Linked DNA regions of Homo sapiens: region 1 is linked to region 2. Evidence: fine-mapped expression QTL. A gene starts in region 2. The other region holds a variant in brackets. All regions are shown on one strand. Distances are from middle to middle.

Region 1 (2,914 bases), 53 kb after region 2:
AACTGATAAAAGAATCCATGATTCAAGAGGTGTAACATAATCTAAGCAAACAAAGAAATTGACACCTAGACAAATAATAAAACTGCAGAATAACAGTGACAAAGACGTGAAGAGCAGTCAGAAAGAAAAGACAGTTTACCTACAAAGAAATGACAAACGAGCTGATTTTTTGATAATGAGCCCAGGTAGATAATATTTTTAGAAGCAATAACTGTCACCCTAGAACTGGGGAACTAGTCTAACCATTTTTTCAAAAATGAGAGTGAAAAACATTGATAAAAAACAGATCAATAACAAAGGAATTACTAAGCTATATGCTTCAGAAAGAAAGGAAATGACAGCATAAGGAGAGAGCCTGAAATGGAGAAAACATGTATAAATCTAAATAAGTATTTATATATTTATTTGTAATACAAGTACTGAACTACCAACAAACGATGAAAAAGAGGATAAACATGCACAGACAGAAACCCTGTTGGGTCTGCTACTGCCTAGAGATTTAGAAGGGCCAATTAGCCCCACAGTATCACCTAGCAGGGAGCTGTGTAATGTGGCTCTTTGAGTAGAGAACAAAAGAGTACGTAGTTCTCAGTACTCTATTTGATCTCCATAATGCCCAAATAAAGAGTGTATGGGCCCGGGATGGTGGCTCATGCCTGTAATCCCAGCACTGGGAGGCAAAGGTGGGCGGATCACTTGAGGCCAGGAGTTTGAGACCAGCCTGGCCAACATTGTTAGCTGTCTTTTAGTAGAGACAGCAAAACCCTGTCTCTACTAAAATTACAAAAAATTAATTAGCTGGGTGTGGTGGCATGCACCTGTAGTGTAGTCTCAGCTACTCAGGAGGCTAAGGCATGAGAATCACTTAAACCCAGGAGGTGGAGGTTGTAGTGAGCCAAGATTATACCACTGCAATCCAACCTGGGTGACAGAACAAAACTGTCTCAAAAAAAAAAAAAAAAGAGCATGGATTTCCCTCATATTTGGAAGGCTCCCAAGACTCAGCTGCAAGATGCTCCAAACTTAGCTGAATTGATTGCTTCAAAGAACTTGCTGATGTGTAAGGCTGTAGCTGAAAACCTGGGCCATCCAGTGAAGAATAAACATCAACTCCTAATAGAACCGTCATTTC[G/A]AAGTCTCTACTAAACCTGAATGTCCCAACTAAAAGCATCAAAGACCTTGAAAACATTTGAGAATGTTTATGTGTGCAAGTAACAAATCAAGCCTCTTCTGAGTAGGGGTTACAGGATATAGGTTACAGGATAGCCCAGGAAATCAGATTATTAGTTCTTCTTCCGTGCTAATATCTGCAAACAATTCTTTCAATTCTAAAGCCAGTAAGTTACTAAGAGCAGACAAGATATAAATTGGTCATTTCTTGAAGTTGTCCTGGGGACTTGTAAAGACCAACATTCATTCTCATCATGGAAACTTCTTTGCTCCCCTGCTAGATTTCAGGTCATCATGTCAGTATCCCTCCAAGAATAGATAACGGCTCTTCAGTGAGCTGCACCAGTGCTTCCTGGTCCTTGCTTGCAGCAGGCAACGCTAGCATACATCCTTTGGGCCATCTTATTTGCCATCACACCCTCAAACCCACTTTCTAACTAGAGAGAGGCAATGCTGTCACTCTAGAGGTTTACTGTAGAACTCACTAAAGTGAAAGAAGCTTTGCCCAGATTCTTTCCAGGCAGTATGGGCCTAAACATAAGCCAGACATGGTCTTCCTAAGCTAACAGGAAGTATGTTCCTTTCTGGGATTGACCAGGGATGACCCAAATGTCCTGGTCCCTATTTTTCATTCCTTAAATTGCCTATGCACTGATATGTGCCCAAGTCAGTGTCTGAGATGATAAATCTTAGGAAGCAGAGCCAAGAGGAAGGGGAGTGAATGGTCTCCATGTATAGTCCTGTGACCACTGGAGGTCTTCCTCCCTGTAAGGGTGATGTGTGAGTGGGTATCTGGCTCAGAATATTAATGTTTGAAGTGTCATATCCATATTTTAGTTCCTGGAAGGAACTAATTTAATTAATTTATAATTATTATTTTATTCCAAGTTCCAATACTGCCCTTGTGTCTGAGCAACAAAGGATGACTCATGCAGATAATCCTGGGGAAGCTTTGATTGTGGCTAGCAAAGCAATCTTGGAACTGAAATTCCTCAGTATCCTTGCTTTGATTCCTTGAAGAGAATTGACACAGACTCCAGGTTTTGGTGAAGCAAAGAATTCCTGCTTCCTTGACTCTGTTTTTGTCTCGCCAGAACACAAAGAGGCATTGAATTTCACTATTAAGGCCTTAATTAGTAACCTTGTTTGTGAAATTGAAACAAAGGTCTCACTGAACAGGCTGGTGCTCTGGCAATGGCTGTTCCATGCTCTCCAAAGACCCAGAATCAAGGCTTGCAATGAAATCACTTTTCCTCATGACTAAACTAAATCTCTCTTGCATGTTAAAAGTTAGTCTTTAAAACGCTGCGCAGTCAGAACATTGCTTTGTCTTACACATTTCCCTGTTACCTGGCAGGCCCCAAATGTTACATAAGCATTCTCTGCAGCTGTAACCCCTACTCAGAAGAGGCTTGATTTGTTATTTGCACACATGATAACATGTGGCATAAGTAAAGCTGGGAAGATGTTTGTTTGTAAGGGGTAATCTGTGTCTATCAAAGCAGATAGTATTGGTTTTGCCTAGTTTCCAAACATGGTTTTATAAGTCAGTATATCTTGTGAAACCATTAGGACAAAAGTTTGGAACAAAAAGAAATCTCAGGCTCATTGCAAAGCTTTTTTAACGTTTTCAGTTCCCTCCATGTTCTGAGCATTATCATAACGTACTGAACTGTTCTGTTCAGAGACCACTAGGGAGAGGAGATGAGGAACCAGAGCAGCCAGGATGTTTCTCCCTGGGATA
Region 2 (2,914 bases):
AAGAAAATATTTTTATATAGCTATACAACACATTAGCATTTTAAGCTAAGTGTTATTACAAAAGAGTGGGCCGGGTATGGTGGCTCACGCCTGTAATCCCAGCACTTTGGGAGGCCAAGGCCAGGTGGATCACAAGGTCAGGATATCGAGACCATCCTGGCCAACATGGTCAAACCCCATCTCTACTAAAAATACAAAAATTAGCTGGGCGTGGTGGCGCACTCTTGTAGTCCCAGCTACAGGCGCGCACCACCTGGGAAGCTGAGGCAGGAGAATCGCTTGAACTCAAGAGGTGGACGTTGCAGTGAGCTGAGATTGCGCCACTGCACTCCAGCCTGGGTGACAAGAGCAAAACTCTGTCTCAAAAATGAGAGACAGAGAGAATAAACTCCGTCTCAAAAAAAAAAAAAAAAGGTCAAGGAGTTAAAATTAATTTAAAAGTTTATAAAGTTAAAAAAGCACAGTAAGCTAAGGTTATTACCTTATTTTTAATAAACTTAGACTAAGCATACCGCATTTATAAAGTCTACAGTAGTGTACAGTAATACCCTAAATAATATCGTAGGCCTTCACACTCACATACCACTCACTGACTCACTTAATAGCTACCGACAGCCCTGCAAGCTCCATGCGTAAGTGCCCTATTCAGCTGTACCATGTTTTCTTTTACACTATATTTTTACAGTATCTTTTCTGTGTTTAGATACACACCATCCTTTTACAACTGCCTACAGTATTTAGTAGTTATACTGTACAGGTCTGTAGACTAGGAGTAACAGGCTATCCCATACGGCCCAGCTGTGTAGGTTTGTGCAAGTACACTATGATGTTCACACAACCACGAAACGGCCCAACCATTTCTCATAACTATACCAGTTCTTAAGGGGAGCATGGCTGTATTAAGCCACCACCTTTTTTGTTGTTGTTGTGGTCGTTGTTGAGACGGAGTCTCACTCTGTAGCCCAACCTGGAGTGCAGTGGGCGATCTTGGCTCACTGCAACCTCTGCCGCCAGGGCTCAAGCGATTCTCGGGCCTCAGCCTCCCGAATAGCTGGGATTACAGGCGCGTGCCACCACGCCCAGCTAATTTTTTGTATTTTAGTAGAGAAGGGGTTTCACCATGTTGCCCAGGGTGGTCTCGAACTCCTGAGCTCAGGAGATCTGCCCGCCTCGACCTCCCAAAGTGCTGGGATTACAGGCGTGAGCCACCGCGCCCGGCCTAAATTATCACCTTTTAAGACCAGCATCCCTGGCAACCCCCCAAGTCTCAGCTCCTAGTAACAGAAAGACCCCTTCCACAGAAGCTGAAGGGTGGACCCAATGAATTGGTGTGAGAAACTCCATGCCACTTTACCAGCGCACTCTTCGCTGAAGTTTATGCGACTGTCATAGTGGGGACCGAAGCTGTTCAAAAGGAAGTAGATTATCCTTCCCCTACGTACGTGGGAAGGGGGAGGCTCTGGGTTATCAAGAGGGTGAAGTGGGAGAGCCAAGCGGCCCACCCACAGGCGGATTCCAGGGCGGCTGGACGCACAGCCCCCAGCAGCCGGAGCCCAACAGCTGAGGTCGCCGCCCCTAGACAGCCCGCGCTCCAGCCAGCTCAGGGACCCAGCGGCTAAGCCTTCTGTCCTCCCAGCTTCCCACGCAAGTTCCGCCAGGCCAGAGGGAACGAACGACGAGACCCTGCAGCTTTGGTGGCTGAGAACCTCACCTCACCGCGCTACCGCGCAGCTTCTTACCGCGCACGAATCCCCCAGAGCAGCCGAGTTGGCGAGCCGGGGAAGACCGCCCTCCTGCGGTATTGGAGACCGGAAGCACATAGTGCCCGAGAGCGCGTCACTTCCGGCGTCACAGACGGTCTTTACAAGCGACTCGTGGGCGTCAATACTGGGCTGAGTTTGTGGCGCGCTTAGTGATGGGATGGCCCTGTGCAGGACGCCGACACGAAAAGATGAAGAGTTCAATCCGTGCTGTCTGAACTCACAGTGTAGCAGGCGAGATAGACGGGAAGATCGGTAGGGTGGGAGATGCCGGAAAGGCTTCCCGTGAGACTGGATAAGAAATCAAAAATCTGGTGAAATTGCCGGCAAGAGGGAGTTAAGGACATTCCAGGCAGAGGCAAGGTAAAGGCGCGGTGGGAGTGGGTCACTGTGATAAAAGTCTGAAAAGGACATTTGGGGGCTCTCTTGGGTGAGAGGCAGTGCCTCATGTCCCCCCTTCAGTGCTCGTTGAGCATTCAATTAAAATGTTAACACTTTGTAGCCAAACAAGTTCTCTTTTTAAGAGGAAAACCCTGGATTTCCAAACGGCTCATTTTCTGTAGCTTCTTGCAAATGGATACCACCACCAGCTGTGCCTAGTGAAAAAATGCAATTTACCAGGACCACTACTCTCAACAGTTTGCTCAATCCATTTAACCTTTTGAATATTTGTCCACTTCTTTTTATCTCTGTTGGCACCTCCTCCCTTGTCCCATATTGTACCTGTAGTTCTACAACTGGTCTGGGGATTCATTCTGCCCCAACTCCCTGAAATCCATTTTCCGTGTCGTAGGAACGGAACTTTTGAAAATGTAAATCATTACATTTAAAGCAGTACTGCTGTACTGCTTTAAACTCTCCCTTCGCTTCCCATTGTTTTAGGATGAAATTCGAACTCCTTATGAAGTCCCTGCCTACTTCCCTAGCCTCACCTTGCTCAGTCTCTCCTTTGAGCTCCGTGCATAGGATCATTTTTTCAATTTCTCAAATGCCGTGTGTACCTTGCCATCTCCAGGCCTTTACATTTGCTAGTCTCTTTGTATGGTACTCCTTTTCTTCTTCCAGTTACTTTCTACTCACCCTTCAAGGCTTTAAGTATTTTATTCTCAAGAAAGCCTTCCAGCCCCCTACCCCCATACTAGACCAATCCCCTA

Direction of the effects. Alleles are on the strand shown, and positions count from the first base shown. SD is a standard deviation of normalised expression in the study named.
In carriers of allele G in region 1, the expression in lung of the gene that starts at base 1,823 in region 2 tends to be lower than with A alone (large effect, 0.77 SD a copy in GTEx).

Evidence for each region. PIP is the estimated chance that this variant, and not a neighbour inherited with it, causes the effect. A credible set is the group of variants that fine-mapping cannot tell apart.
Region 1: its variant is the best candidate, but not a certain one, in a credible set for the expression of ZCCHC9 in lung (GTEx, PIP 0.82).

The regions. Positions count from the first base shown.
Region 1 is chr5:81,247,101-81,250,014 of GRCh38, reverse strand. The region is part of intron 1 of CKMT2 (creatine kinase, mitochondrial 2); the gene reads right to left. The region is part of intron 1 of CKMT2-AS1 (CKMT2 antisense RNA 1); the gene reads left to right. Among named protein-coding and RNA genes, the nearest start is that of CKMT2, 15 kb to the right of the region's middle. The variant G/A (reference allele first, on the strand shown) is at 1,133.
Region 2 is chr5:81,300,496-81,303,409 of GRCh38, reverse strand. ZCCHC9 (zinc finger CCHC-type containing 9) reads right to left here and starts at 1,823. Exons shown (of 6, transcript NM_001131035.2): 1 at 1,712-1,823. CKMT2-AS1 (CKMT2 antisense RNA 1) reads left to right here and starts at 1,841. Exons shown (of 2, transcript NR_034123.1): 1 at 1,841-2,123. RefSeq lists enhancers at 515-1,304, 1,312-1,491, 1,642-1,741, 1,305-2,094.